Linked DNA regions of Homo sapiens: region 2 is linked to region 1. Evidence: fine-mapped expression QTL. A gene starts in region 1. The other region holds a variant in brackets. All regions are shown on one strand. Distances are between the middles of the regions. Region 1 holds the start of SCAMP1 (secretory carrier membrane protein 1). Region 2 overlaps LHFPL2 (LHFPL tetraspan subfamily member 2).

The links.
Region 2: its variant is fine-mapped to the expression of SCAMP1 in monocytes (Quach 2016, PIP 0.94).

The regions. Positions count from the first base shown.
Region 1 is chr5:78,353,037-78,368,357 of GRCh38, forward strand. SCAMP1 (secretory carrier membrane protein 1) reads left to right here and starts at 7,581. Exons shown (of 9, transcript NM_004866.6): 1 at 7,581-7,692. The coding sequence starts at 7,636. SCAMP1-AS1 (SCAMP1 antisense RNA 1) reads right to left here and starts at 7,505. Exons shown (of 2, transcript NR_105014.1): 1 at 7,178-7,505; 2 at 5,728-6,949. RefSeq lists enhancers at 6,633-7,229, 7,031-7,120, 7,151-7,310, 7,230-7,826, 8,221-8,340 and silencers at 7,491-7,580, 8,011-8,130.
Region 2 is chr5:78,474,567-78,489,887 of GRCh38, forward strand. It overlaps LHFPL2 (LHFPL tetraspan subfamily member 2), which reads right to left. Exons shown (of 5, transcript NM_005779.3): 5 at 10,664-14,587. The coding sequence ends at 14,331. It overlaps SCAMP1 (secretory carrier membrane protein 1), which reads left to right. Exons shown (of 9, transcript NM_004866.6): 9 at 938-6,173. The coding sequence ends at 1,102. Among named protein-coding and RNA genes, the nearest start is that of SCAMP1, 120 kb to the left of the region's middle. The variant TTACAA/T (reference allele first, on the strand shown) is at 10,763.

The sequences.
Region 1 (15,321 bases):
GGAGGCCGGGGGCCTGAAACAAGATAATGCGAAGGAGAGGAATAGGAAATAAAGTTAGAGTGGCAATAGGGGCTGGAATCCATAGGGACTTGCAAGGCCCAAGCTTTTATCCTGATACAGCTGGGAAACTATTAGAGGGCTTTGAGTGGATGAGGGCCATGTTCTCATTTACTTTTTTTTTTTTTTTTTTTTTTGAGGGGACAGAGTTTTGCTCTTGTTGCCCAGGCTGGAGCGCAATGGCATGATCTCGGCTCACCACAACCTCTGCCTCCCGGGTTCAAGTGATTCTCCTGCCTCAGCCTCCCAAGTAGTTGGGATTACAGTCAGGCATCACCACACTTGGCTAATTTTGTATTTTTAGTAGAGATGGGGTTTCTCCATGTTGGTCAGGCTGGTCTCGAACTCCCGACCTCAGGTGATCTGCCCACCTCAGCCTCCCAAAGTACTGGGATTACAGACGTGAGCCACCATGCCTGGCCTCACTTACATTTTAAAAGAATTAGTTTGGCACTGTGTGGAGAATAAATTGTAGGAGGACAAGGGTGGAGGCAGGGAGGCTAGTTAAGAGACTATGGCAGTGATCCAGGTGAGAGATGTTGATGGCTTGAATTAGCGTGGTAATGAAGGAGGTGAGAGGAACGTGAGGATTAGGGAGGATAAGCAATTTGCCTGAAGAGTTGCACAACCCAGAACGCAGCAGATCAGGAATCTGAACCCAGGCTGGCCTTCTTGCAAAGCCCCTGGTGCTTCTTTGTGCTTGTGTGATTTCATCAACTTGGTTAGAAGACAGGGAAAGGACTGAATGCAGGGTTGCTACTTGCTCGACCCTGAGGGTGAATGTCTCCTTAAAATTGGTGCCCTAGAAGCCTCTGTGGCCTCACCCTCATCCTGGTCCCAGGACTAAACCTCTATATTTCAGGTTTCTTCTAGGTCAGAACCCTACCCCAGAGATGTTCCATAGCAATTTGTGAATTGATTGGGAGGCAGCAGTGGAGTTGCCGTTGGGACCCAAGTACATATGCTGTGATAATGTGGGAGAACTGAGGGCATCCTGTGGAGACAGGCAGACTGCCTTGATCCCTCGAGGAAACCCACACTACTTGACTTTGTGCTGTTGGTGTAGCTCTACAGTCTTTAACTCCAAAATACCCTTAGTTCAGTCTGGTTCATTCAACAAATAAACAAGTTATAATTGTTTTACCAGCCACTGTGATAAGTACTGGGAATAATAAAAGCCAACAATCATAATAAAATAAAACATAATCTGTCCTTGAGGAATTCTCAGTTTAGAGCCATGACCACAATAAATAAATTTTAAGTGTGACACGCATGTACACACAACTGAAACAAAGGTTTTGTGCAGCTTCTGTTTATTGTGTGCCACGTACTTGGATATTTTCTGTTCTCTTTTAAAATGTGCTGGTCATAGCCTTCTAAATTGAGTTTATGACTGACTAGTGGGTTGCACTACAAGTCCTAAAATTTGAAAAAAAAGGAGAAGGGGAAGCAGATACATAAATAAATGCATGTAGAGAGCCAGTGGGGGAAAGGTATGGCTGAAAGCATAGACTGAGGCCATGTGAGGAAGGACCGTGAGTGATATGATACTGAATTTAGTGTTTCTCCTATAGCTGACAAGGAGATCATAAAGGTTTTTAGGCAAAGGAGTACTTAATAAAAACGTTTAAGAAGACAGCATTTGCAATGAGGGAAGAGTCATTCAAATAGTATTTTAGTAATGGAAGCAAAGATGATGTTAAGCCTCAAATGGAAGCTGCGGCATTTATTCATTCATCCACTAATTATTTGCCGCACCATGTCAGATGCTGGAGTGACAATGTTGAAAAACATACAAACCCTGCCTTCAAGGTGCTATGGCCAATTGGAATATATATGATGATGACATCAATTATATGACAGAGTAATACACATTCTGAGAGTATTGCAGAATTTGTGGAAGAGCAAGAGTGGAAAATCTGCTTTTTCCCTTTATTAATAGTAAACTTTGAATTCGAAGCCAAATACAGTTGGTTTGTATATTCCTTTTTAAAAAGAATACTGTTTCCATGCTATTTACATAGTTAAAGTTGGCCGTAACTGAGGGTCTTCACTCAGGACAAGTCAAATGACATTCACTTTCTTTTCATTAACACCCTTTGCATTTTTCCCTTGGTTCTGCTGCTTGGAAGTTTCCTGGCACACCAGGAAACTGAGTGTACGTCCCTTTTCTTTCTTCTACTTTCCACACCACAGTGGTGTGGACAGGTGGTCCCTGACTTGCAGTGGTTTGATTTATGATTTTTCGACTTTACAATGGGTTTATTGGGGGTATTAAATGCATTTTCACCTTACGATGGGGATTATCAGGGTATAGCCTCATTGTAAATCAAGAAGCATCTGTATTAGATTTTCTGTCTGCTGAAACAAATTACTACCAATTTAGCATCTTAATACAAAAATTTGGTTTTTTTCTTTTTTTAACAAAATAATCTGCACAATCAAGAAATTTATTTATTTATTTTACAACTCTGTAGGTCATAAGTTCAGCATGAATTTCACCAGTCTAAAATCAAAGTGTCAGCAAGGCTAGGTTCCTTTCTGGAGGCTCGAGGGAAAATCTATTTCCTTGTACATTGATCATTGGTAGAATGTAGTTCCTTGAGTCTGTAAGACTGAAATCTCTGTTTCCTTGGTGGCTGTCAGCTGAGGGTTCTTTCCAGCTTCAGAAGCCACTCACATGCCCTAGTTTAAGAACCCCTTCCTCAATCATCAAAGTCAGCAACTCTTCTGCTTTCCTCTTCCACTTTCAAGGACTCGTGATTACATTGGGCCTACTTGAATAATCCAGGATAATCCCCTCCTCTCAAGGTTCTTAACCTTAATTACACCTGCAAAGTCTCTTTTGCCATGTAAGGTAACATATTTACAGATTCTAGGGATTATAGCATGGACATCTTTGGGGGAGGGGAGGATTATTTGGCCTACCACACAATGCCTGCACCTCCTCTGTTATTGCCTGAAAATGTAGCCAGTGGCAGAATAGGGAGCCAGATAGGCTGGTGCTGGGGCGTCGAGGGTATCAGCAGACACAGCAGCAAATCTGGAGACTAGACCCACTGTAAGAGATGATGGATTTCAGTTCTAATCCATCAGTGAACCCAGAATCCAGTGAACCTTTTGAGGCAAGAAACGTAAATATCTAACTTGGCATTTTCCTAGCATTCCCCAGCTATAAGCTAGGCAGTTTAGAAAACAAGGAATTCAGACTCTAGACCCTGCTCAATAGGTTCACCAATTAAAAGTGTCAGTCTGAGGAGAAGCAGCATGATGATGATGGGAGGCACACTCTGAGGGGAAAAGAAACAGGGTTAGGGAGGAGTGAGCCACTGTCCCAGATTAATAGAACGTTAGAACTGTCCAAAGGATCTGAGATATCCTTTAGCCATGTTCTAGGCCTTTTAGGAAGTTTTCTGGAGCAGGCCTTACGCTTTATACCTGGTTTACTGCTTTATCCACAACATCACTGTTTTAGTTGCTCAAGAAATACTTGAATGATGTACTAGAGTAGAAACTCTGGTTAGAAAGGTGAGTTGATATGTTCAAGATCAAACGGTTGGTTTGCAGGAGAGAGGGCATAGACTGGTTTTGAGTCTTTGTTCTACCAAATTTAGGAGGTACCTTCCGTAAAATGAACTCCTGCACCAAATGAGGCTTCTTGTATAATTTCTCTCTACCTTGCACATAGCATTTCTTCCTTCTATATGAAATTATTCATATAGAATAATTCTATTCATTTAATAACCTATTTATTTAATGTCTAAAACATTAGTCAAGAGACCTGAGTTCTGTTCCCTGTTTCCCCATTCACTTCCTTGGTGTCTGAGACAAATTACTTAACCTGTCCAAACTCCAGTTTCTTCAATCATGAGAGAGGCTGAGGTTCCTTCTCAGCTCGCACATTCTATAATTCTAAATTTCATGGAGGCTAATGAATTAATAAGCTCCCTGCTATGGTTTGGGTATGGCTTTGGACCTGCAAAGTGTCATGTTGAAATATGAGTCCCAGTGCTGGAGTTGGGGCCTGGTGGGAGGTGTTTGGGCCATATGGATGAATTCCTCACAAATGGCTTGGTGCTATTCTCCTGAGAGTGAGTTCTCATCCTTGAGAACAGGTTGTTCAAAAGAACCGAGAGTCAGCTTCTCCCTTTCTCTCCCCTGATGCCCCATCTTGCACTGTAGCCATGTGATCTCTGCACGAAGTCTCCCCTTTGCCTTCTGCATGAGTGGAAGCAGCATAAGGCCCTCATCTGAAGCTGACAGCCTGCAGAACCATGAGTCAAATAATCCTCTTTTCTTCATACATTATCCAGCCTCCCGTATTCCTTTATAGCAACACAAACAGATTAAGACCCTCACCCATGGACCATATGTCTGCATGTCCTCATATCAGTGTTCCCAAAAGTGTGATCAGCCACCACCAAAGTCATCTCAGGTTGGCCAAGCATGGTGGCTCATGCCTGTAATCCCAGCACTTTGGGAGGCAGAGGTGGCCTGGATCATTTGAGGTCAGGAGTTCGAGACCAGCCTGGCAAACAAAGTGAAACCCTATCTCTACTAAAAATACAAAAATTAGCCGGGTGTGGTGGTGCATGCCTGTAATCCCAGCTACTCGGGAGGCTGAGGCAGGAGAATTGCTTAAACAAGGGAGGTGGAGGTTGTAGTGAGCCACGATTGTGCCACTGCACTCCAGCCTGGGTGACAGAGTAAGACTCGGTCTCAAAAAAAAAAAAAAAAAAAATCACCTGAGATCCTTTACATATGCTGATTTTTGCAGTTGTTAAGAATAATGAATCAGATATATGGTTTCCATTAGGCCATGCTTCCCTTTTCACTCTATAGGCATGCTACACATAAAAAGTGATAATATTTATGTGGCATACTAGGGGAAGAAACCTTAAGACTGTCTCTCTGACAATGCACATCTTGCTGAGAAATTCTGCCATACGTATTGAGAAAAACAGCTGCAGAAAAATATACATATGATCTAACTTTTTCAAGACAATGCCAAAGCTCAGTATTAGAGTGTATGCATATCTGCATGAATATGTATTGTTTTTATACAATTACATGTTATTTTATGTAAGTGCAGATATACACTATTACAAGAATATTTAAAGAAATGTACTAGGTTGTTAATGTAGGGGAAGAGAAGAGGGAATACACGGAATAAAAATTTTTGTAAGTGAAAAATTCAATATGTATGTCATGACTCCATTTATACATTTATGTAAAATAATGTATAGAGATGTAAAAAATAAAAAATGCAGATCCAGAGCCCCTACCTCAGATCCTTTCAAGCGTAATCTTAGCAATAGGAGGTATGGTAAGGTGGGTGTCTGCATCTTCAACAGGTATTCCAAATGATTCTATAACAGTAAAGTCTGTAAACCTTTGCATTAGGTGCAAATATCATTAGCTGTAAACAGAACATAGTTGGAAATTTCCATCCTGCAATGCGGGCTCAGCTGACCCTCATTGTCTTGGAACATAGTAGATGCATAATAAATAGTGCAGATTATTTTGAGTCATTTGGAGGACAGGTGGAGGGAGTGAGGGCAAAAGTGGTGAGAGAAGCAGATGAGCTGGGCAAGGACATGCTTGCTCAGGAGAAGGGAGGCAAAGCGTATAAGAACATACTGAGCCTCCTTGCCACTTTCGACGTTCAACCAATATTTGTTAGGCACTAAATATACATGCAGGACACTTTTCTGTATGTTGTTTCATTTAATTCTTAAATAATCCTTTACAGACTCAGAGAGGTGAAGAGAGTAGCACAGGTAGTATCAGAATTGGGATTCAAACCTGACACATACACTGAGCACTAAGTTAAAACCGGGCACTGGGCAGCTGCTGAGGATGCGATGGTGAGTACAACAGACTGCTTGCTCTTTTTGATATCTAGAATCGTACAGCTCTGCTGTGCTCATCCTTGTCTGTTGTCATTTACTAGTTGACATCTTCGTTGACTACCTAGAAGCAGCTGCTTCGACATCTATCCCAACCTGAATCCCGTCAAAGGGAGATTACAACAAATGTGCTTTTTGTCTATCATCTCTAGCTAGTGTTTCACAGTGGGGGGAGTATCATTTCCTGGGTGACTTTGCATAGAGCAAGCTCCCCAAAGGCCAAGGAATACTCAATCTAGATTCTTCCAATCCTCCGGTACCCACCAAGTCAAAAGAATTCTGGCTCCCTGTAGCTTCATCTAAGTGCTTTTCTGTTAGAGGAGAAAAGTGAGGAAAGCGATGCTCTTTCAATAAGTTCGGCAGGGTGGGGCAAGGAATGGTACAAATTGATTTTTTTTTTTTCTTGAGACAGAGTCTCGCTCTGTCTCCCAGGCTGGAGTGCAGTGGCCCGGTCTCGGCTCACTGCGACCTCCACCTCCCGGATTCAAGCGATTCTCCTGCCTTAGCCTCCAGAGTAGCTGGGACTACAGGCGTACGCCACCACTCCCGGCTAATTTCTGTATTTTTAGTAGAGACGGGGGTTTCACCATATTGGCCAGGCTGGTTTCGAACTCATGACCTTGTGATTCGCCCGCCTCGGCCTCCCAAAGTGTTGGGATTACAGGCGTAAGCCACCGCGCCCGGCCGGTACAAATTAATTTAACACATCTTTTGATAATCTCATCCTTGGTGTTGGAAAAGACGGGAAAATCCAAAAGTGTCTATTTTGTGCCCAAATGCTCAAGTTAATACTCGAGGGCCTTGATCTCTGGCCTCTTGCCATCCCTCTCCCCATTATTTCTGAAGAAGTAGCCATTTTGCAGATTCCGGAGGATGGGAGCCACGGCCGGCCCCTGGTACTGAATCTCATCTCCTTCTCAAGGCTCCTTGGATCAAGTTGGGACCGGCAGCGCCAAGGCTGCTCTCCGTGATTTAGCAGCAACCTAGAGTCAGAGAGACCGGAAGATGGGAGGCCGGGATTCTCAGGTGGGGTCAGGGGTATGCAAAAATCCTTAGCAGCGGCCGCGCCCCCGCCCCGGGGAGGTAATTTGCGGAGGGCGGTGCAGTAGCCTCTCCAGTGCCCGCGTCCCACGGTCTAACGGCACTGCTCCCGGGGTGCGCGGCCCACGACTCAGGCTGCCTCCCCCAACCTGACAAGTGTGCGTCCTTACCACAAAATGCCACCACTTCCCTAAGTGACGCTGGGCCCCGAGGACCTGATTTGAAATCGGTGTTCAGAAGACCGAGCCCGGCTGGACGCAGCTGGCCTCCGGCTGAGAGCGGAGGGGAAGGGTTCCATACTCTCCGAGGATCCCGCGGGCTCGTGGCGTGTGGAACGCTTTTCATCGCTTTCAGTTCCCGTTTCCTTCGCCCCGACTGCCTACTCGGTCGCAGCTAAAGCCCGGAGCGTGGGATCCGGGCCCGGAGGAACGGGATGGCGAACGCGAGCTGCGCCGCGGCCAGGAGCCCGCCGCACCGGGCATGCTCAGTGGCGCGGCCGGCTGGGTGGCCCGCGAGCTGCACCCGGATCTGCTCGGCGGCGGCGACGTGAGCGCGCAGGGGGGCGGCGGCCTCGCCTCGTCTCTCTCTCTGCGCCTGGGTCGGGTGGGTGACGCCGAGAGCCAGAGAGATGTCGGATTTCGACAGTAACCCGTTTGCCGACCCGGATCTCAACAATCCCTTCAAGGTGAGCTTCGGCCCCAGCATCTCCTGCCGCCGCGACGCGTCGTTGTTTGTGAAAACGGACGAGTTCCTTCGCGCCCACTGCGTCTGCCCCTCGGCTCCCCTTAGCAGCCCAGAGAGGGGCGCGGGGCCGCCGTCCTCCATTTGGGGTCGCGCCCCGGCCCCGTGTCACTCCTTTGGGTTTTGGGGCTTGGGGGTGGAACCTCCTCAGCTCGTGCCCGGTCGCCCTTCCACACGTCCCCGACTGGTGAGGGTCGTGTCTGCAGCCGGGACTGGGCCCGCGCGCCCGGAGGGGTCCTGGCCCGCCTCTCAGGAGAGAAAGCCGAGGGCAGGTAGAGTCGCCCCTTGCCAAGCAAGTGTGGCTGGCAGGGCCGGGAGTCGGCGGAGGGGGGCCCGCCCTGGGGTGGGGTTGTCATGGGGACCCGAGGTGGCGGCGGCGGAGAGCTGCGTGGGGTGATGGCAGAGGTGTGGAGGAGGAGAGAGGTGAGGGCACCGAGTATGCTGCAATTAAAAAAAAAAAGGTTATGTTTTTATTTTTTAAACTTGTGTTGCACCCAAATACCACCAGTGGCGCTGCCATCCCCCCTCTTTCTGTTAGGTTGAGGTTGAGGTTATTGATACCAAAGCAAAACTTAAAAATAAACATATCTGGAAAACAATAGTGCACGTGGACGACCTCTTCCCTACCCAGCTGCTTCTAGCAAGGTAAACGATGGGATATTTTCCAAGCTCCTAGTGCGTCACCGGTTCTCTGGGCTATGTGAGGATACCATTTCCTACTTGAGCTGCTTTTCTTCTTGGAGTCGACCTTATCAACCCCGGCTTCGGAAGGGCTTGGCACAGAATCCTGCAAAGGAAGGCGGCTGAGATATTCATCGTCTGCGTTTAAATGAATGCAACATCTAAATAACTCTCTCTTTGAAAGTATTCTGAATTTCCTAATGAGTGTAACTGTTAGCACGTGTAATTTGTTTCCAACTGTTGGTTGAAGTTGTTTCTCAATCCCCCCGGCCATGTGCAGTAGTAACTTTAATTTGCAGTCACACAGAATAAAACAGGAACTCTAATTTGTGGTCACACAAGTGTCACTTCTGGCTTGTTGAGTTTACATCTTTTTACTCCTGGTTTTATCTTTCATTAAGAATCCTGGAAGAGGAAAACTATTTCTGCTCTGATTATTAAATGCCTGATAATTCCAAGGAGGATTATTTTAATGAAATGACCCTGATTATTATTGACAACTCGACTCACTTTGTAGCAGTGTAGAATTAGACTCAGTCACTGTTTCATTGTCCCTAATGTCACTTAAAATTCAGTACAACTGGCCTGTACCTTTCAGTGACATGGTTGCATTTTAAGACTTTTTTTTTTTTCCTGGCAGTTTTGTTTCAATTAGTATTGGACTTGCTTCCATGTTGTGGAAAATCAGGTAGTTCTTAAATGGTAGACTTTCTAAAGAGACCGTTCATAAATTGTTAAATGGGTGTTATTTTAAAATATTTTGAAGATAAAACATCAAGAACCTTTTAGCCTTTCCTAATTCAGATAATTCACTGACGCTGTTTATTCAGCATCTGACGATTTGGCAGTGTATTTTCTACTTGGTCATTCCATTTCATGGTTCATTTCATATTAACTGGCTCTCTTGTTAGGGCAAAACATTGTCTTCATCTTAGCCCAGACTGTCCTTTTGTGACATCTGATATTGCCATGACACTTTTCCTCTTCTGACATTCATAAAGTTGCTGTAGTAATTCTAAACCCAGGAGTTGTTTTAAATATTCATTGTGGCATAACGTTATAAATCTTTTTTGTTCTTTTATAAGTGGATGTATCCAGGACAATGATTATTCAAGTTTGTAAAATGCATCAGGGACAGATCATTTAGGTCTAAAGTAGACTTGGTTGTACACATATTTCTGCTTATGATCTTTCTCTGTTTTTGGTGACTGTTATAGCACTGTCAGTGTATCTGACCCTTTATTTTTCCATTTATGTTCACCTGCCCCTCCTCCTCACAAAGTATAGTTTTATATCTATATTTTGTCTTTTTACTTCTGCTTATATTTATGTAAAAGTGATTTTTGAAATAACATTTCTGATACTCTACTTAAATCTGAAATGTTTCTAGAATCATTTGAGTTACTTTATGATCATTTTTCTTTTTTTACTTTTTTTTTTTTTTTGAGACGGAGTCTTGCACTGTTGCCCCGGCTGGAGTGCAATGGCGTGATCTCAACTCACCACAACCTCTGCCTCCCGTGTTCAAGTGATTCTCCTGCCTCAACCTCCCTAGTAGCTGGTATTACAGGTGCCCGCCACCACACCCGGCTAATTCTTTGTATTTTTAGTAGAGACAGGGTTTCATTGTATTGGCCAGGCTGGTCTTGAACTCCTGACCTCGTGATCCACCTGCCTCAGTCTCCCAAAGTGCTGGGATTACGGGCGGGAGCCACTGCGTTCAAGCAGATCGTTTTTCTTTCTTTCTTTCTTTCTTTTTTTTTTTGAGACGGAGTCTCCCTCTGTCGCCCAGGTTGGAGTGCAGTGGCGCGATCTCTGCTCACTGCAAGCGCTGCCTCCTGGGTTCACACCATTCTCCTGCCTCAGACTCCCAAGTAGCTGGGACTACAGGCGCCCGCCACCACCGGCTGATTTTTTGTATTTTTAGTAGAGACGGGGTTTCACCGTGTTAGCCAGGATGGTCTCGATCTCCTGACCTCGTGATCTACCCGCCTTGGCCTCCCAAAGTGCTGGGATTACAGGCGTGAACCACTGGGCCCGACCCATTTTTCAAATCTGTTTTTATTTGCAGTATTTGAAGATAAAGCTCTTATTTTCAAGTATATGATATTTCGCATTTGGTAACTATGCTAATTTCTTTTTCATTAAATCCTATTTGTTTTCCATTGCCTTTTTCATTTTTTAGCATTTCTTTTCCTTCACTTTTATGTTAGGAATACTTCTGCAAGCATCTTCGTTTGTGCCGTATCATGAAAGTAGTTTGAGTCTATTCTCCTTATATAATATAACCATAGTGGTTTACTTGATTTTATTGGTTCTTGTAAGGCTATTTGCTGGATTCAGTTCATTTTTTTTTGTTGAGCCCCTGCTTTATATTCTAGTGGTTTTCCTAGGCTTAGTGAATGGTTTTATGAAATTTGAATGGCTTTCATTGCGCATCAAGAAACTTGGAATAACTGGAAATCTGTAGTGATCGAAAAGAAAATAGGTGATTAATTATATAGAAGTTTCTGAGGATCCACTCTTGAGCTGTTAAAATGGGGTTTTAAAGCTATAGAGGGAAAAATATTTTCTGTATAGTCAACATGTAATTATTGAAGAATTGCTGTATGTCCTTTGTTTTCTGTTGAGTTTATTCATTCAACAAATACTGAAGAAGTGTCTCTGTCCTTATGGCTATTAGTCTAACAGTGAGACAAATATGCTTGGAAAATGAATGAAAGGGGAGAGTTTAATAACCAGCAGAGGTCAGCAATATAGGCTCTTACAAGTCAGCATAAGAGTGTATGGTTAAGTGCCGGAACAAGTGCAGTTTGTTCATAAAAGGAAGAAATTAGTAAGTGGTCAGAAAATTTTCATGCTTTATGCTTTTGCATATTAACATGATAATTGATTGAATAAGATAGTTCATTATGGAAATAACATTTAAATTAATTTTTAAAATATGAAGAGAATTAGAATTTCACAGCTGGGGGGGCAAATTCTTAAAATATATTCAGTCAGATCTCATAGATTAAAAAACAAAGCCCACAGAGGCACACTTGCTCATTGTCTTGTGCCCATGTGTAGGTAGTGTAGAATTGGCATTAGAACTTAGGTCTCCTGATTTCTAGTCCATTACTGGTGACACTGTATGTGCTCCCTGGTTGCATTTTGATACCAAAATTCTTGTTTTGTATTTGGAGGTTAGAGTTGAGGGGAGGCAGCAGAGGATAGGATTAAAAAATTTTGGCTCAAGAATTTGAAAAGATCTGGGCTTGATCCTGGCTTTGACACTAACTGGTTGTGAGACCTTGGAAAGTTACTTAACCTCTTTCAGACTCAGTTTACTCATCGCGTGTTCTCACTCATAGGTGGGAATTGAATAATGAGAACACTTGGACACAGGGTGGGGAACATCACACACCGGGGTCTGTCATGGGGTGGGGGGAGGGGAGAAGGATAGGAGATATACCTAATGTAAATGACGAGTTAATGGGTGCAGCACACCAACATGGCACATGTATACATATGTAACCTGTACGTTGTGCACATGTACCCTAGAAGTATTAAAAAAGAAAGACTCAGTTTACTATTTTGTAAAATAGGGTAATAGTACATTCTCTATAGGATTGTAAATAGGATTAGATGAACATACATTTAGCATATAGTAAGAGCTTAATGTATAGTGGTTTTAATTAGGTACTAATATTTAGTATTAATAGTAATTTAAGAAATTCTGTTTAATGGCCAGGCGCAGTGGCTCACGCCTGTAATCCCAGCACTTTGGGAGGCTGAGGCGGGCGAATCACGAGGTCAGGAGTTCGAGACCAGCCTGGCCAACATGGTGAAACCCCGTCTCTACCAAAAACACAAAAAATTAGCTTGGCGTGGTGGCGGGCACCTGTAATCCCAGCTACTTGGGAGGCTGAGGCAGGAGAATTGCTTGAACCTGGGAGGTGGAGGTTGCAGTGAGCTGAGATGGCACCACTGCACTCCAGCCTGGGCGACAGTGCGAGACTCATCTCAAAAAAAAAAAAAAAAAAAAAAAAAAGTTCTGTTTAATAATCTCTATATGCTTAGCTATGAATTTAGTGAAATTTATGTTACTTTTGGATCTTCTGGAGTGCTGGTAGTAGCTGTTTGACTGATCATAGTCAAGGAATCAAAGCTAAAAATAATTAAGTGCTTTGCCTACATCAACCTGCTAGACTAGACCAAGGTTGTCTGAATTCTGGTGCTTTTTCACAACACGTAGTTCCTCCCTAATAAAATATCTCCATGTTAAAATTGAGCATAGTGTCCATTTTGTTTTGGCCTCAAAAATTAATTTTAGTCTATTGAAATTTTTTTTAGAAATGGCCTAAAATTCAGCATTCTCACTTATGTTATCTTTTAAGTTACAGTAATCTGGTGGCATTGTAAGAGTTGAAATTTAAAATTGAAAATGACCCATAATTCAAGTGTGTTATTCATTTGTCTTAGTCTGTTTGGGCTGCTGTAACAAAGTATAGTACCTCACAGTGGGTAATTTATAAACAACAGAAATTTATTGCCCAGAACTCTGGAGGCTAGGAAGTCCAAGATCAAGGTCCCAGCAGATTCAGTGTATGGTGAGTCCTTTTCCTCATTGATGGCATCTTCTTTGTGTCCTCACATGGCAGAAGGGGATGGCAGCTCTTTGGGGCCCTTTTCTTTTCTTTTCTTTTTTTTTTTTGAGACGGAGTCTTGCTCTGTCGCCCAGGCTGGAGTGCAGGGGTGCCATCTCGGCTCACTGCAACCTCCATCTCCTGGGTTCAAGCGATTCCCCTACCTCAGCCTCCCGAGTAGCTGGGATTATAGGTGCATGCCACCATGCCCAGCTAATTTTTGTATTTTTAGTAGAGACGGAGTTTCACTATGTTGGCCAGGCTGGCCTTGAACTCTTGGCCTCAAGTGATCCACCTGCCTCAGCCTTCCAGAGTGCTGGGATTACAGGTGTATGCCACCACACTTGGCCTCTGGGTCCTTTTTTTAATAGGGATATTAATCCCATTCTTGAGAGCAGAGCCCTGCTGACCTAGTCACCTCACAAAGTCTTCACCTTCTGATACCATCACGTTGGTGATAGGTTTCAGCATGTGATTTTTAAGGAAACAAACGTTCAGACCTTAGTTTTCATTTTGTAACATCAAGAATGTTATCCATCTTATTTCATTTACCTTGACAATGATACTTACAAGTTGATTTCACTCCTCCCTTATCTGTTTAAAATTTTGAGGCTGAGCTTGATAGCTCATGCTTGTAATCCCAGTGCTTTGGGAAGCCAAGGCAGGAGGATTGCTTGAACCCAAGAGTTTGAGACCAGCCTGGGCAACATAGTGAGACTTCCATCTCTACTAAAATTTAAAAGTTAGCTGGGTGTGGTGGTGCACACCTGTAATCTAAGCTACTTGGGAGGCTGAGGCGGGAGGGTGACAGAGTGAGACCCTGTCTCAAAAAAAAAAAAAAAAACCCAAAAAACAAACAAAAAAAAGATATAAAATTTTGAGTTTGGAGATTGGATAGCACTAGGAAAGTATTCTGAGGATTTCCTTTGTGATTGTCACATTTTGAAAACTGTCTTTTAACATTAATCTGGAACATAGTGGTTGCAGTTTGTGGGCCTGTGTTATTTTACGTTCATGTCAACTGCATGAATTCCTGCTCATTTTTCCTCATGTTAATGTTTTTAAAAAGCACATATTGAGCTGCTGTTATATTTCATCAACTTAAGATGCCATCCTTTGTAAGATGCACCATTATCTTATTTACCACTGTCTCACTTATCTGTTGCTATGTAACAATCCCAAAATATAATGGCTTAAAATAACAATTATTTGCTCACGATTCTGTTAATTGCGCTAGACTTAGCTGGGCAGGTTTTTTCTTTTTTTTAATGTTCTTTTCTGGAGTCACTAAAGTGGCTTCAGTCACCTGGTTTATGGTTTCAGATATCCTTACTCAAGTGCCTGCTGGTTACCTGGAGATGTCAGTGGGCACAGCAATTAGCTGTCTTTCATGTAGCCTCTCTACTAGTAATAAATGGGCTTTGTGCATAGTAGCAGCAGTGCTCCCAGAGGGCAAGAGCTGAATCTACAAGGCTTCTTGAATCATATGCTACTTCTGCTGTATTCTGTTGGTCAAAACAAGGCACAAGTTCAGCCTAGATTTTAAAAGGAGTGGCAAGCAATAGGCTCCACTTCTTGACTGGAGACAGACCTATGATCTGAAGATACACCTAGTATAAAATGGCGAGGTAGTCGTAGGATAACTTCACTAGACACTCCCATTCAAATAGGGAAAGAGTGGGAGGCGTGTAGCACCTGCTGATGCATAGCAGTTCTGAAATCTAGCCAGGCACGTGTTGTTAGGGTCCCCTACATTGGGGACAATGAATGTTTCTTGATTAGGGCCCAGTTCTGCTACCTCGTATTGGTTCCTTCACCTGTTATTTTCTTCTGCTTTTGGCTCCACCCTCTGAGAGGTCCTTTATTTATTTTTTTCTATAAGAATGAGCCCTTTTGGCAGCTGAGTAGCATTTTTGGCCTGCTTCTTGCCCATTGAAAATTGGGAGCCCAGAAGTTTCTATTAATTTTGAACTGTTTCTTTAGTCCAGGCTGTCACAACTCTCTTAACAGTTTCTTTTTAATCTTACCAGAGTTCAAACCATGCCTTAAAAACCACATTTGTCATTCTTTTTGAGACAATCTTCATTTAGGGTGAAGTGTCCGTTGCCATGGTCGGTATTCTTCAGATGTTTAGAAAACTTTTGTCTAGGTTGAGCATCTCATATGGCCAGGGGAAGGCTGCTGCCATAGGAGGCTGCTGTGCCACGTGACAAAACTAAGATTTGAACACAGTTTTATTTTGGCCCTGTAGCTTTACAGTCATA
Region 2 (15,321 bases), 120 kb after region 1:
GTTACCAGTTCCTATCCAGGTTTGGAAAAAATACTGACTTGGATGCATTGGCCCTTCCCTAAGCCTGCTTTGATTGCATTCCAGTCAAGCTTCTAATTTAGATCCAGTCACAGTGCAGTGTAATTACCAGTATCTTTCTGTCCCCACTCTGCGAAGTTTGTGGGCATATAATTAATAAATGTTTGTTATTTCCTTCTTCAAATTTGTGTTAAAATAAGTGGCTGATGTTATGTATTGATGGACTCATAGTTTAATTATGCAGGTTTTAAGACATATACTGATAGAAAATTTTTGAACCCTACTCCTGAAAATAAATTCCAAGATTTGAGTGATTAATCAGTATGGAGAAACAATTCCCAGAAGTGTTTCTTTGTGCATTCTTTAGGACTTGACCATACACAAAAAGTTAAATTGTATACAGAGTGCATAGCGGCAATATGTTGAAGGACATAAGTAGTGCTTGGTACATTAAATGATAAAATGATCTCATTTGATTATAACAGGGCCTGTGGTGTATATGTAGATAAAATGGAAATAGATAAGGTACTGTTCTCTCTGAATAGTCTGGGGTAATAAATTAATGTATTGTTTCTTGTTATTATGTTTAAACCATTTCATTGTAATGCTGTAATAATTTCACTTGACTAATTGGGTGCAGAGGAAAATACAACTTTTTGAAGTTGGCTAAGAAGTTCTTTATTTTTGGTTTAAATTAGCATAATTATCTCTTCTGCTTGGAGAAGAAAAGGAAAACCTATATTAAGAAAATGTTTAAATACAATTATTGTGTGTCAGTTTGGTGGCTAATATTCTTGATCTTAGGAATCATGACTACAATCTAGTATTTTTATGTTTGATTAATGTTGAGATTAAGAGCTGCTGGAAATGAATGCGTAGGTTGCTACTTACCTTCTCCCACTTTTTTGTGCCTCTGTAGGTACATGGACTATATCGCACAACAGGTGCTAGTTTTGAGAAGGCCCAACAGGAGTTTGCAACAGGTGTGATGTCCAACAAAACTGTCCAGACCGCAGCTGCAAATGCAGCTTCAACTGCAGCATCTAGTGCAGCTCAGAATGCTTTCAAGGGTAACCAGATTTAAGAATCTTCAAACAATACACTGTTACCTTTTGACTGTACCTTTTTCTCCAGTTACTGTATTCTACAAATATTTTTATGTTCAAAACACACAGTACAGACAGCATGGATATTTCCTGTTCACTTGTGCATGGGCTAAAACCAGGAAAACTTCCTTGTCTTATTACTTTACCTAATAGTTTCTTAATATTTCAGTGCCCCTTGCAGAAAAAATATTACATGCTAAATAAATATTCTCCATATTTTTGGGGGATGACATTCAGTGAATTATTTCAGTGGTGACCCACTGAAAATTAATAATGGTACTTATGATTAAAAACGCATTTAATACTAACTGCAGTAGTTCTTTCAAGAATCTTTAGAGATAAGGATTGCACATTGGAAAAGTAAACCATGTTTCATTCCTTTTTCCCTATTTATATTGAAAGAAATAGGCCAGCAGAGACTTAGGGATTTTAAATTGGCTTGCTTTTTAGCTGTTTCAGTCACCAGTGAAGAGCCTATGTGCATTTTGTAGTAGATAATGTAAAATTTGTCATCTTTTTCTTTTCTTTTTTTTAGAATAGCTGATATTTTGATAACAATCTCTAATTTGCATGGGCACCACATTTCTTATATTAAAAGAATTAGTGTTTTGGCTTCTGTACTGCTTATGGTTGTAGGATTCAGGGGTTAATGGAATCACAGAAATGATATTCTGCAAGAATTTCTTTTAAATAAAAAGTTTGGGGGTGCAATATAAGAAGTTTATATAATATGCAGTACATTATCCAAAAGAGAAGGTAGTTAATGCAGTAGAAAGTAGTGGTAATAATTCCTTTTTAAAAAAATTTCGGTAGTCATATAGTAACATTTTGCTATATGAAAACTTTGGTATATTCTGTGGTTACAACTAAGATTGTGTCTGGCAGCTCTTTTTTGGGGATGTGTGTGTGTGATTTTTAACAGAGGTATTAAAGGCTAGCCTAACTGTTGTCTAAAAAGATTGTACAGTATTTAAGGGATTTTCCTTTTAGCTTTTCATCTCCAGTGGCATTAAACATAAAAAGACCCTGGCATTTTTTCACATACTTGAATCCCTAAATGCACCTGTCTTTCACTTTTTGAGACAGACTGAATATATCTAAAATTTCCAGCAATAAAAAAAAAAGCATTTAACTTGCACCAAGCAAGAAAATATAAATACAGTTAACTGCATTAAGATAATCACGTTAAAATTGTTACTATGCAGCACAGAACTTCATTCTTATAGTATTCTTGGGTTCAACCTTTGAATCAATTTTACCACTGATTAAATAAATGACTCAAAGACATCTGTAAGTCATGCTGCTGTGTTTTGAAAGTCTTTAACTAAATTAAGATTGCAGAATGATAGTGATTATTCAATTAGATTTTAAGTAAGGATTGTGATATTAGAGGCTGGAAATCCTTATTTTTTAAAAAATCAGATAGGCATAAATAGTTAAATCACTTTCATTCTCCCCAAACCTGTAGTTACAGAAAAAGTTTTATGCTAGAGGTGGGATGCCAAGTTTTCACTATCCATGAAGCAGCGCTGCATGTCACTAGGTAACACAGATCCATCCAGATGGTGTTTACATTTGATTTATTTGGGATCTTATTGACATCAGGTATACTTGGAAGACATTTCTTTTATTCTTCAGCGTATGAATTTAAAGCTATTTTTTGTAAATATTTCTAATCAGCGATAATTTCTACCTATGTTCTCAACCAACTTAGCCAGTTTGTTTTTCAGAGCCTGTAGTCTTATTGGAAATCTATTTTATCAGTGTGCTTTATTGAGTGTGGATTTTGCATACATTCAAAACATTAACCACAAAATACAGCAAGTGCACCTATATTCACCATTAACTTATATCCCAAGTCCATTTTTTCCTGTACACTACAAACAAAAGATATATTAGAGACTTTTGAAAAATGCTGAAATACTTTGCTTCAGAATTGGAATGTTTATATTATGTAGAAATCTTCAAAGGTAGCATTATTAAATAGCAAAGAATAATTAGAACCCACATATCTTTTTTTGTGTGGATGGGGAAAATGTTTTAAAATCCAGTTATTTAATATGAGTTTGAGAGAGAAAATTGTTTTTTAAAAATATATGTGCATTGAAATGATGGCAATGCTTATAGTATGATCAAGTATGAAAGGAACTTTAAATTCTTATATTTACTTTTCTCTCAGTAAATTGTTAAATTTTCACTCAGCAAAAGATTGGCATTTGTTAAGTGTTCTATATTTAGTACTAAAATCACAGTCATGAAATCATAGTCATAAAATGGTCTTCACACAGCAGTCATCCGTGTCATTTATCATTTTGTAATATTAAATTATGGCAATTTTATTTCAAACTAAAGTTTGAACACCGGAAAGTCATTACTCAGTGATTTGTAATTTGGGACTTGGATTATTTATCTAGAGATGTTTGTATATTTTGTCAGTAACTAATACTGCGCTGCCATCATGGTGACTGTCATGGTTCTACAGAAATGCCCTCCATGTGTCCCTCTAATGTTGCATGTTTCAGTGGGTTGGAAGTTTTGTATATTTATTGTATTAACACAGAGTGTCATAAAATAAAATGCTGTTTACTGGATGTTTGTTTGTATAATTTTGAACACTATAATAGCAATTCAGAGACAGACATTGTTAAAGGTTTGATGTATATAGAAATTCCATGTTTGATTTTTTAAAATATGTGTATAAGTCTGTCATGTGCTAAACAAAATAATATGAAAGACCTAGTTAAAAATTCTAACCAATGTAAAATGACCATTTTTCTGTTGCATTAGACCTTTACAGGTAATGGAACATGAGCTTCACCCATATTAAATATTTTGGCCCCTTTAAGGTCAAAATACAGATCATCTAGAAGTTAGATTCAAAATGGAAAACCTATTCATGGCTCAGATTTTTCATTGTGGGTTAAAAATGGGTGTCTCTGTACTAGTATTGTATTTATTCAATTGAACTTGTATTCTGATTTCTATCCTTGCTACCTATTGCTGTTTTATGTACTGATGAAAGTACCTATTTGTGTATATTGGATTTTTCACTTGGTTAGCTAAAGAAGATGTAAAAATATCTAAAATAATGTTCATGGTGAATCTTATTTTGAGAAATACATGTTAAAAAAGGAACAGTATTCTTTATTTTCTGGGTGTTATATTTAAAAAAGCAAGTTTGGATTTTTACACCTAATTTACTAGGAAAATATTTTATTCTGTAATTCATGTTAAGATTATGTATGGTTTGCATTTTAAGGGGATTTATGTTAGGTTAATTAGTTGTTTCTGTAAATCATTTGTAATAGCATAGTGCTTTTTACTCATTGCTGTATCTTTTTCTGAAAACACTGTTGTTAACATCTAATTCAGTATCCTTATTGGTACAAATCTGTGTTTGGCATGACTGTTTATATACAGAATTTGTTACATTTTGAGCATTTTTTCCCCTGCTTATGTATACCTTAGAGTTACCATGGCTGTCATATACCATTTCACTATATCTCCTTTCAGTTTTTCCTTAAGGAAAATGTTTAGAGGAATTTGTTCATTTCATGTGATTAAGCCCTTTAGAGATGAAATAAGATTGGTTAATTTTAAAAAAATTGAGGATGGTTAAAAAATAGAAAACACCTTACTTTGATACATTTTAAAGTACAATAGTATACATTTATTTAGAGTAGACTAATGTGTTTAAAACATGAGTTGTTTTAAATACTTTTTTATTGAGCTAAAAAGTTTTATCTCACATATTAAGTATTACAGAAAGTGAAGTATTTTGGCTAGAATTTTAGGGCATATTTTATAAAGCAGCATGCCTGTAATATTGGTGGGTATTTTTAAACTTTAGGACTTTATCACAGTATGTAGAGAGCTAGAAATAAATCTAGAAACTTTCTAAGCCAGGTATTGCCACTAACCTGTCTTATATAAGCAGATACCTCTTATTTGAAGATTGTAGGAAAATAGAGAAAGACTGTTCTCCAGTTTTCTCACCCCCGCTGTGGGTTTTATATTTACAATTTAACTTTGGGGTTTGGGTAAGACAAACATTTAATGTATAGGATTTTGGCCAGGTGTGGTGGCTCACGCCTGTAATCCCAGCACTTTGGGAGGCCAAGGTGGGCGGATCACGAGGTCAGGAGATCGAAACCATCCTGGCTAACATGGTGAAACCCCATCTCTACTAAAAATACAAAAAAAAAATTAGCTGAGCATGGTGGCGGGCGCCTGTAGTCCCAGCTACTTGGGAGGCTGAGGCAGGAGAATGACGTGAACCTGGGAGGCGGAGCTTGCAGTGAGCCGAGATCTCTCCACTGCACTCCAGCCTGGGCGACAGAGCGAGACTCCATCTCAAGAAAAAAAAAAAAGAATTTTCATTAGTGCTGGCCGTGTTTCAAATGGCAAGGGAACATGGGAACTATCATGTGGCAATGTAGTGAGTGTTAAACTTTGTGTTTGTCCAAATCCTGATTTATTTTTCAGTTCATATCTTTCTGGGCTTGACATGGCTGATGGTGTAGCTGAAACCCTCCTAACACTAAAAGCCATTTAATCTTTTCTGTAATAGGAGCAGAAAATAGTTAATCATCCACCTAGTAATATAAGATTACTGTGAATATTATCTTCTATACATTAAAACAGTTCTAGTTTGTAGAATAATACCATACAAGTTTTATTTTTAAATTCTAGTTATTTTCAGTGCTTACTTAAATGTAATTCTAGAATTCCTCCACAACTTTTAATATTTTGTATGCCAGTGATTCTCAAGATAAATCATGATTGTAGTAGTTGTTACTGTTGGCAGTTTGTAGTAGTATTCAGGTATTTTGGGGATGGGGGAAAACACCAAAAATCAGTGTCTTTTATCTGGTGATCACTGTGGTATCTACAGTATTCTAGTCTCCTGCACAAAAACTGAACCCACTGGGCCTATGCATCCCTCACACTTTTTTTCTAGTATAAAAGCAATACATAATGTGTTGTAGAACAATTAAAAATTCAGAAAGTGATACATGAGAAAATAAAAATAAATCCTTAATTCTGTCATCTTGGGGTACCTCTGCTAATATTTTATTGTCTTCCATTCTTTTTCTATGCATATGTGTTTTGTTTAGTTAAGAGATATAAGCAATATGGATTTTTAAAAACCTTATTTTCCCCTCACTTAGCTTTATGTCATAATGGCGCAATAGTTTAGTTTTTTAAATTAACTTTTTTAATTTATAAAATTAATGTATATTTCAGTATAAATTATAGAAAATATAAGCAAAAGAAATAACCAAAATTCTCATAATTTTACATCCATGAATAACTTCTATTAAAATCTGGTTTATATCTTTCTATTTTTCTAGGAAGACAACTTCCTAATATTAAAAATGAGATGACCCCGTACATCCTTGTACATCCTTTAGGGATGTCTACCTACTCCTCAAAAGCCCCACTTCTTTGGGTCCTTAAAGTCCACATTGGTACTGGATGTCATCTGGCCATAGTGGACTCATTCCTGGCTTATCAGTTTTTTATTCTGAATGTAGATATGTCTAGAACTCTACTGTTCCAGAATTGGAACATAAGAGGTAGCCATTTTCTGCCATGAGGAAGGAATCACCAAGAAAGCTGGTCTGCAATGAAAATGAAGAATGAAACAGACATAACAGGAGATGTAAAATGAATGACATAGAAAAGATCTTAGTGGCTTTCCTTTTCCTTTATGGAGCCCTACTTCTCACCCTTATCCCATTATCCTCATAATCTTACCGCTTTTTCTCCCTCAACTATCTTGAATTGGTTTCTTATTACTTTTAACTGGAGGATCTTAACACAACAGTTTATCTTATTTCAGTTATGATATAAATATGTATTGAAGATTTTAATATCTCTGAATATATTTCTGTAACATTTAGTATAGCTATATAGCTAACATCATATGTATGTATCATAAAGTCTTGTTATTCCTTTAGGTTCTGATTTTCAGGGTTTTAAAGTTATAAATAATTTATCAAGGAATATATTGTTGCTAAATTTGGGGACTCGGGCTTTTGTTTTTTCTTTAGGACAGATTGCTGAGTTAAAGGGTATTATGCATAGTTTTTAAAGCACCTTTCATGTGCTTTGCCAAGTTGCTCTCCAGAAAAATTTTATCCATATGTAACTCCATCAGCAATGTACGGAAAGGCCTCTTTCTTCACATCCTTGGCCAGCATTGGATGTTCCTTTTCTAAAAAGTCTTTTATCCCAATAGATTTTGACAAATCAGGTTTCTTTTCTGAGCATTCTGGTTTCACATGGCTTATGTGCTCACCCAATGCTACCGGTTTGTTTGTTTGTTTTTGTTTTTGCTAAATAGGAGTAACTGAGTACCCTGCATCCACTGAGAAATCTTCTGCTTCCTGAAAGCTCTAAGGTAAAGATAATTAGCTGAATGCTCTGTTATAACAGGATGGAAAAAGAAATGGTGGCCTCAGGTAGCCAATCCACTGAGTCTCTCCAGGTAAAATTACACTGGTTTCGACAAGTTATGTTACCTTTCATAGAATGTAATTTTAAAATGATATTAGTCTGGGTGGGTAGTATTTTCTTAGTTTTTTTCTAATAATAGCTTATTGTGGGCTTAATTATATACCAGTGTTCTGTACTAAATGCTTTATATACATCACTTAATTTTCATACCAAACTTGTGATATAATTTCTGTTGTTGGCTCTGTTTTTGTAGAGTTCTAGGAAATTACCCCAAGGTCACTCAGTGAGTGGTGGTGGTGAAGGGCTGGAGAGGGATGATGAGAACAGGCAGGTCCCCTGACTCCTGCCAAGCGTGGCTGCCCCACCATGCCGCCTCGTTCCAGTTGTCTTCCCTTTCATCCTTCCACATTTCCAGTCATTCATGTCCATCCTTTAGGGACAACAGATACTAGAAAAAAAATCAACAAAAAAAATTTTTACATATATTTTTGAAGTCTCCAGACCAAATGCTAACACCTGCCACCTAAAGGTGAGTACCTGCTGCCCATTCTTCAGCAGTGTAAATTTACTAAAGGGTCTTTGGCGTTTGTGTGTTTGGAGAAACTTTAGTCGAGGACAAATCCTTATTATTAGGTTAAATATGCTTCTTATGTGATTATAATAGTTGCTTACCCTGAATGAGAGATTATTTATACTAAGAAAACAATAAAAACTGTCAAAGCCTATCATTTATTTTCCCACTGTCACATACTTAATGAATTTCTTGTGTCTGTTTTCAGGATTGAGCTAAATCATGATTGATAAATTGAGACATATGGTGTCATCTTCAAAATTATGAAAAATCACTAGGTGTTTTCTCTGAAAGGGAGGAAGAAGCAGTGTTTTCATCAGTTGTGATGGTGAGGCCCTTTTGGAGTTTTATTTGGAAGTTATTCTAAGTGTTTACAATGTAGAGATATTGCCCAGGAGTTTGCATTGGCTGCCTTCCCACCTTGTGCATTCCAGGTAGAAGGAAACAACATAGCAGTTTGAGTGAGTTGCCTTTGGTGTCAAACATGTATCTGAGCTTTGGCTTTTCCGCTTATTAGCTTTCTAACCTGGGATACATTATTTAACCTCAGTTATTTAAGTGACAGTTATCTGTAAAACAATAGTAACAGTTTCTATCTCATAGGATTTTGATGAATAAATGAATTTTATGAAGTATTTAGCATAGTATCTGCCCATAGAAGTTGCACAATAACTAAGGACACTTACCATCTCTCAGGTGTATTGATGACTCCCAAATCTCTCTCTCTCCTTAGTATAGTCCTAGCTGCACACAGGACTTCTACATTGGCAGCCTAAGCTGAACCTCCTCACCTTCATTGTCCCTGCTTCTTCTGGAGTCTTCATCTTGGTGATCACATCACCTTCCACTCAGTGTCTACGCTAAATACCTGGCTGTCATCCTAGACTCTTTCCTCTCCTTCCTCTCCACTTCTGATCAGTCACCTGCCCATTCTTTTTCCCTAACATAGAATTCATCCCATTGACTGTCCTTTACCATCACTGCCTTAATTCAGGCTTTCGTCTCTTGTGAATAAAATCATAGTGGTTTCCCCTAAACATAGGCATTTGGACTGCCTACCTGTAGGTGTTCAATTTTTCAGGATGTTTGGCTAGAAAAAGCTAAAAAGCTGCTAATAGCAATGTGTTACTTGATTGACTTTTCTTTCCCATGTGGTTTTGGTTTCACTACTTCCTCTTTTTGTGTGCTTTTATCTGTGTCCTGTGTACCTTAGTAAAATTGGCAGTTCTTGTCTGCAAGACTTATCTTGCACAACTGTTCAGGGTAAGGAGAGGAAGTTGCAAGGAAGAAGATAGTAGTAGGGGGAGCAGTGGGATGGCTCTGCCAAATGACTCAGCTGCTAGTGAGGGCCTCTGAAATAAAGTTATTGGTTCTTACTGCTTTGAAGAGTAAAGTTTGCTTTGATACCCTACCCTTCATTGTTTGAGAGTTGAAAAAGATTGTTTGAAACTACTGAAATAATATCCACATAAAATATCCACGTTAGTAAGGACCGTTGTAAGTGGTTGTTTGGTTAAGCAAAAACTTTAAGGGGGTGTAGGTGTAATTTGAATGCAGCATGTTCCAGAAAGATCAGTGTGGAAAGTGGACCTAGTAGCAGAATTGCTAGATAACAACTAAGGATGGGAAGCGGGGGAAGCACATGGGAGGATTCCCCAGCTTCTGCTAAAATTCAACCAGGGTCCATTCTCTGTGTGGATTAACTTTTGGGGAATACAATAACAGCTGAAAAAGCAATGGAAATTTTCTAATTTTTCTTGGGTTATTCAAATCATGATTATTTGGAAAACTGTGTGTGGTTTTTTTAAACTGATATGGGTAACTTTGTCAGCTTTTATTAGAAACCAAAACATGAATCTAATTTCAACTGTCATAGGCCCTAGATCAGGGGAAGAAACTGCCTTTTTTTGGTATGAAATAATAAATGCTTCATGGGATACAGAGAGTTGAGAGTTGAGAAGGGCATTTAGTGTCATTCTTGAGTTTATAAATTAGAATTCCACCTCTTCTGGATGAGGGTTTATATGGCCAGGATTACCTTCAGGAAACATGGATGTGGAATGGCACCGTATCATTGGCTTTTATTTTTAGGGATGTTGTTGGAAGAGGAGGATGTGTCTTTCAGTTAACTTTTCCCCTTGTCATTGTTACATATTTATGTTTGAAAATCCCTTTTTAATACTTCGGAGCATTTTCATATTTCATAGCTTTACTTTAAAATATATGTTTACAATACTTGAGATGTTTTTTCCTATTTACAATTGTGTTGATGCTTCTTCAAGGAAGAAATACATACTTGACGTTAAAGAAAGATAGCCCAGGGTAGGGACATATATGTTACTAGTGAATGGGATAGTTTAAAATACCTGAATATCTTTTTTCCATTCATCAATATTACATGTAAGTTAGTGTTTAAAATAAATGTTGACTGATTGATAGGTATTTTCTTGATCAGATTATACACATCATATTGAAGCCAGTATACTCAGACTTGAAAGAATAAGAATGAATTGCAAAATCTGGTTTAATTAAGATCTGGGGAGGGGAGCACATAGTGAAAATACATATGCACAGGAACCAAATCAATGCTAGACAATGTATTAGT[TTACAA/T]TATAATAGGATAACTACAAGTTTGAAGGCTCAAATTGAGTCCATCAGCTGTAAATACAATTTTATATTTGGCTCAAGTGGCTGTTGAATATCAAGTGGTGCCGAGTCCCTCCAGAGCACCTACTGACCCCCTCAGCCTTGGAAGGAGTTTCACCACAGTCTCAGAAGAAATCCCAGTCGTGCCTTTAACTCTTTTGGCCCTTGGGAGTCATTGCAACCCCAATACAAATGCCGGCCCAGGGATTTCCAGTGGCCACAAGTTATTGCACAGAGAGGTCTGTTCTAAGCCAGACTCTTACAGCTAAGGAGGTGTGAGATTAGCCCTTAAATACTGGTCTAGCATTAGCATGGTCTATAAAAGCATGTTAAGAAATAGCTCCTCAGTGATTATGTACCAGCTACTAGTTATCCTACTAAGAGAAAAGGCAACATGGCAGCTTCACATTTCACATGAAAGACTAGCATTAACTGGGCCTGGCGTGCGGGCTTAACTTTGACATAACACTAGCGATTATTTTAGACCCAGGAAAAAATGATTTCATACCAGTCTTTTCTTCACATAAGATTTGTGTAGCATTAAAATTATGGGTTACTGAATAAGCCATGAAGGCAAAAATGTGGAACTCTCCTTGCCAAAACAGAAACAAACATCCCTGTTTTGACTCCTGTCCAGTTTCCAAAACAAAACAACAAAACATACATACACCTTTGTTATTGCACATCTTTCACACAAACTTGTGTATGTATAATATACATATATATTTTTAAATATGCTACACATAAAAAAAGACTATGGCACTTTACAGAATATATGTTTAACAAAGATCATTACACCACAGATGTTTGAAAACTATACAAAAACCCTTATACAATTAATGCAACATTGTTTGAATTATTAGCACACAGGTTTAAAGAATCCACAGAATCCAAGGCAAATATTTCTGCCTCAGAGTTCATTGAGAAGCGCAGCCCATCCCATCCCGTCATGAGACTTTCTTTAAGCCAATTTCAGGCAAAATAAATAAGACTTTCCTGGTAGTAATAATGGTCCTATTTATTAGAAAAATAAGTGTGAGCCAACAATCTATTTTTAACATTTCTTTCTAGCATATTCCTCATACCCAGTGGTTTTTAAACAGCTGTGTGGAAGAGCATGGTTTAGACTAGCATGATTTTAGATGGTCCTTTCATCCCAAGCCTGGCTAATGGATTCAAGGTTTAAAAGTCCCAACATTACCTTTTTACTATTTACTAAGTCAGTGTTTAGGTAGTTTTTAGTGGTTTGGGGTTCTGTGTGTGTGCATGCCTGTGCTTTTGTCTTCTGTTGCATTCAGATTAATAACATAAACACTATCGAGTGAGTTTATTATGGCCAAGAAGTCACACTCCCTTGTGACTGTTCCCAGGTTGATCTAGAGGTACACTGCCACCTTAGCCAAAGAGCAGGTGATGGACATGCTCGGAGGATCCTGTGAGCTTAGGACTTAACTTGTAAGGACACTGAGATTGTAAACCTAGTGTCAGAAAATGGTTTCTCTATCCAAGAAAGAAAGAAAAGTGAGTCTTCTGATAAGTTTATGGAAAAATTTTGTGTTTTTCATCAAGGTTTGAGACTTGGTTAGAACATTATAAATGTACACACAGAGACAGAAGCTTTGTCCAGTGGCTCCTCCAGCCTCTTTCTGTGTGGTGTTAGAGATATGGTTAAGGTTTCCTAGGCTGCTATGAAGATACCCGTTTTTTTCTTCACCAAAATCACAGGATTTACATCTCACTCACTTTGAATTTTGGTTCAGGAATGGGAAACTCATTAAGGCTAGTTCCACACCTCCCACCCCTTTTGCCCTTAGCCCTTAATCTGTGAGAAGATGGTTTCTCATATAGGCCAAACACCAGAATGTAGTAAAACTGCGGTTGTCCCATTCCATCTCTGTATAATTATCTGTTCTGCACCAAGATACGGTGCTTTAGACTCAGACAGCTTTAACATGATTCACTCAGGGCAAGGTTGCAAACTCTGAAGTCAGGGTTGTATAGCTGGTAGCACAATACCTTGTCCACAGAAGGTACTTTTTCAAAACAAAGTCCTCAAGTGAGCAGATTAATGAACCCAAATACCTACACTTTTTCTCCTTCCAGAAATCTGGCAGTTCCATCTCACTTTCTTAAAGTGCTAAGGAGTGTTTCTGTATCATGATACAATTTTGAAGCTCCCATAATGTCAGAGTAGCTTGTTTCTGTGCTGCTCTGGTCATTCTGAGATACTATCTTCCTGAATCAGTGATATTGGTAATTTATGGAAAGTAGATTAAAAACCCCTGAATCCTTATTCATAGTGGTATTTGATTCTTTTTGTAAACAGGTGTAGGCAGTGCTGTGACCTTGATCTAGCGCCTCTTTTTGAATTAACTTTGTCCTCTGTGCTTTCCTGGAATTAAGGTCTTGGCTGCAGTTCTTCAGTTGCAGCAATTTAATGTTATCTCAGTCTGCTTTCAGGATCAACACCAGTAACTACAAAAACTTAACTCCCATAACTAGCTTCTTTTTGTTGTAGAATGCCATTCTGCTACTGTCGGGATTGGAAATAGAGCTGACTACAGCATGGTCACCAAACTGGGAGTAAAGGTCTCCCCCCAAGTGCCGAGATTCTGGCAGGTCCTCCCAGTGAACATCTGCATAAGCCACAGCTAGCTTGGAGACCTCAGTCCCTGGAAGGAGGAAACAGTGAGGTTTCCTTTCGCAGTCAAAGCACAATCCTAACCTTAGAAGAAAAACATGTGATCTCCAGAAGAAGAGGAGACTGGGCCAGAACTGGTGCTAGCCTGGCTGCTGGGAAGAAGAAAAAATACGTCTTCACTAGCAAGATTTCATATTTTTGTTCTCATATGATTGTATAGGTCCTTATTGTTTCTTTACTCAAATTTCTAAAATCTCTGGAGTGACAGTTCAGTTGATCCACCTTACCCTAGGATTCAGCCTAGAATAAGTTCCACAGCATGACTCCACGCCATCCCTGCTGACCCCTTTGGTCAGCTAAGCAAAAGACAGTGTCTTGCTGTGCCCTTTAGCACACATCCTGTCCCCAGTAAGTTTATAGTTTTCTGTTCGTTGGAGACAACTTGAAAGAACAGAGGAAAACAAGAACTCCAACCCAAAACCCCATTCTGAGGCAGAGATGCTCACAAGCAAGCAGTGTTGGAGCAGAAACAGCCTGCAGATCTGGCGGACGGTCTCTTCCGTTACCAGAGAAACTGCTGCCCTAATGATTTAGATTATTATCCTTCATTGAACCTGGGGGAGATGGAGTCTGACAGAACTTGGCAACTCCAGGTCTAGGATTATATACTATTTTCATGTTCCATTCCTTATAATGTGCACTGCAGACCGCATGTCCAGTAACTTTGCGTAGCTGGATGTGGCCTCTCATTGGTCCTGTTTAAGCCTCGGGCCGTGGAACGTGGCTTTGGTAGGTAAAGGTTAGTTCTCCACTTGACTCAAATGATGAAACTGTGGACTGTTTCACAAGATTACTCAAGGGAGAAAATGGCATTGTCTCTTCCAAACTAAAGGAGGCAGATCAGATTTTTCCCCTCTTCAATTTCTTCCTGTACTTTGTCACTAGAGGTTGCAATTTCTGCTTGTGCAGAGAAGACAGCACAGATGAAAGTGAGGACTGTGCCCCCAATGGCGGTATAAAAGGCCCAGCCCAAGGAGCAGTCTCCAGGTTTGTAGGCAGATGCATAATGTCCACAGTAGTCTATGGCCTTCTGGCAACCCCAGCCAGCAGGGTAGAGTATCAAACCGAGGATAAGGAATAGACCTGCAGAACAAAAGAGAAAACAGATTAGAAAATCCCCATGGTGCTACAACTGTCCAGATCTGTTGTAATTGTTACTTGATTTGCTTGCTTTGGGCAAGGGCATCTATTCTGCAATAGAAAGTGTTGGGACTGTTTCATGCAAACTAATCTGACCTGATCAAGAAGTATCACATTATTAGAAATATTTTCAGCCACTTTTTTACATGTTGGAATGTGAATCCACTAAAAATTTCTCTTCTAGAAAAGCAAATTGGTACTTTTCTTCTTCTTAAGACAGAGTCTCAATCTGTTGCCCAGGCAGGAGTGCAGTGGTGCAGTTGTAGCTCACTGCACTTGAACTCCTGGGCTCAAGCTATCCTCCTGTCTCAGCCTCCCAAGTAGCTCGGATTACAGGCACACACCACCACACCTGGCTAAGTTTTTAAGTAGAGATGAGGTCTTGCTATGTTGCCCAGGCTGGTCTCAAACTCCTAAGCTCAAGTGATCCTCCCACCTCGGCCTCCACCACGAGTGGCCAACTTGTTACTATGTATTCCCACAGGGCTTTTGGTGCACTGAGCATTTCTCTTTTGGTCTAAGGCAGATGTTGGTAAACTAAGGCCCTCAAGCCAAATGTTAACTTTATAAGTAAAGTTTTATTGGAACACAGCTGTGGCCATTCATTTTTGGATGCCTACGACTGCTTTGCTATGGTCTGCAAAATCTAAAATGTTTACTCTAAAATGTTTACTGTC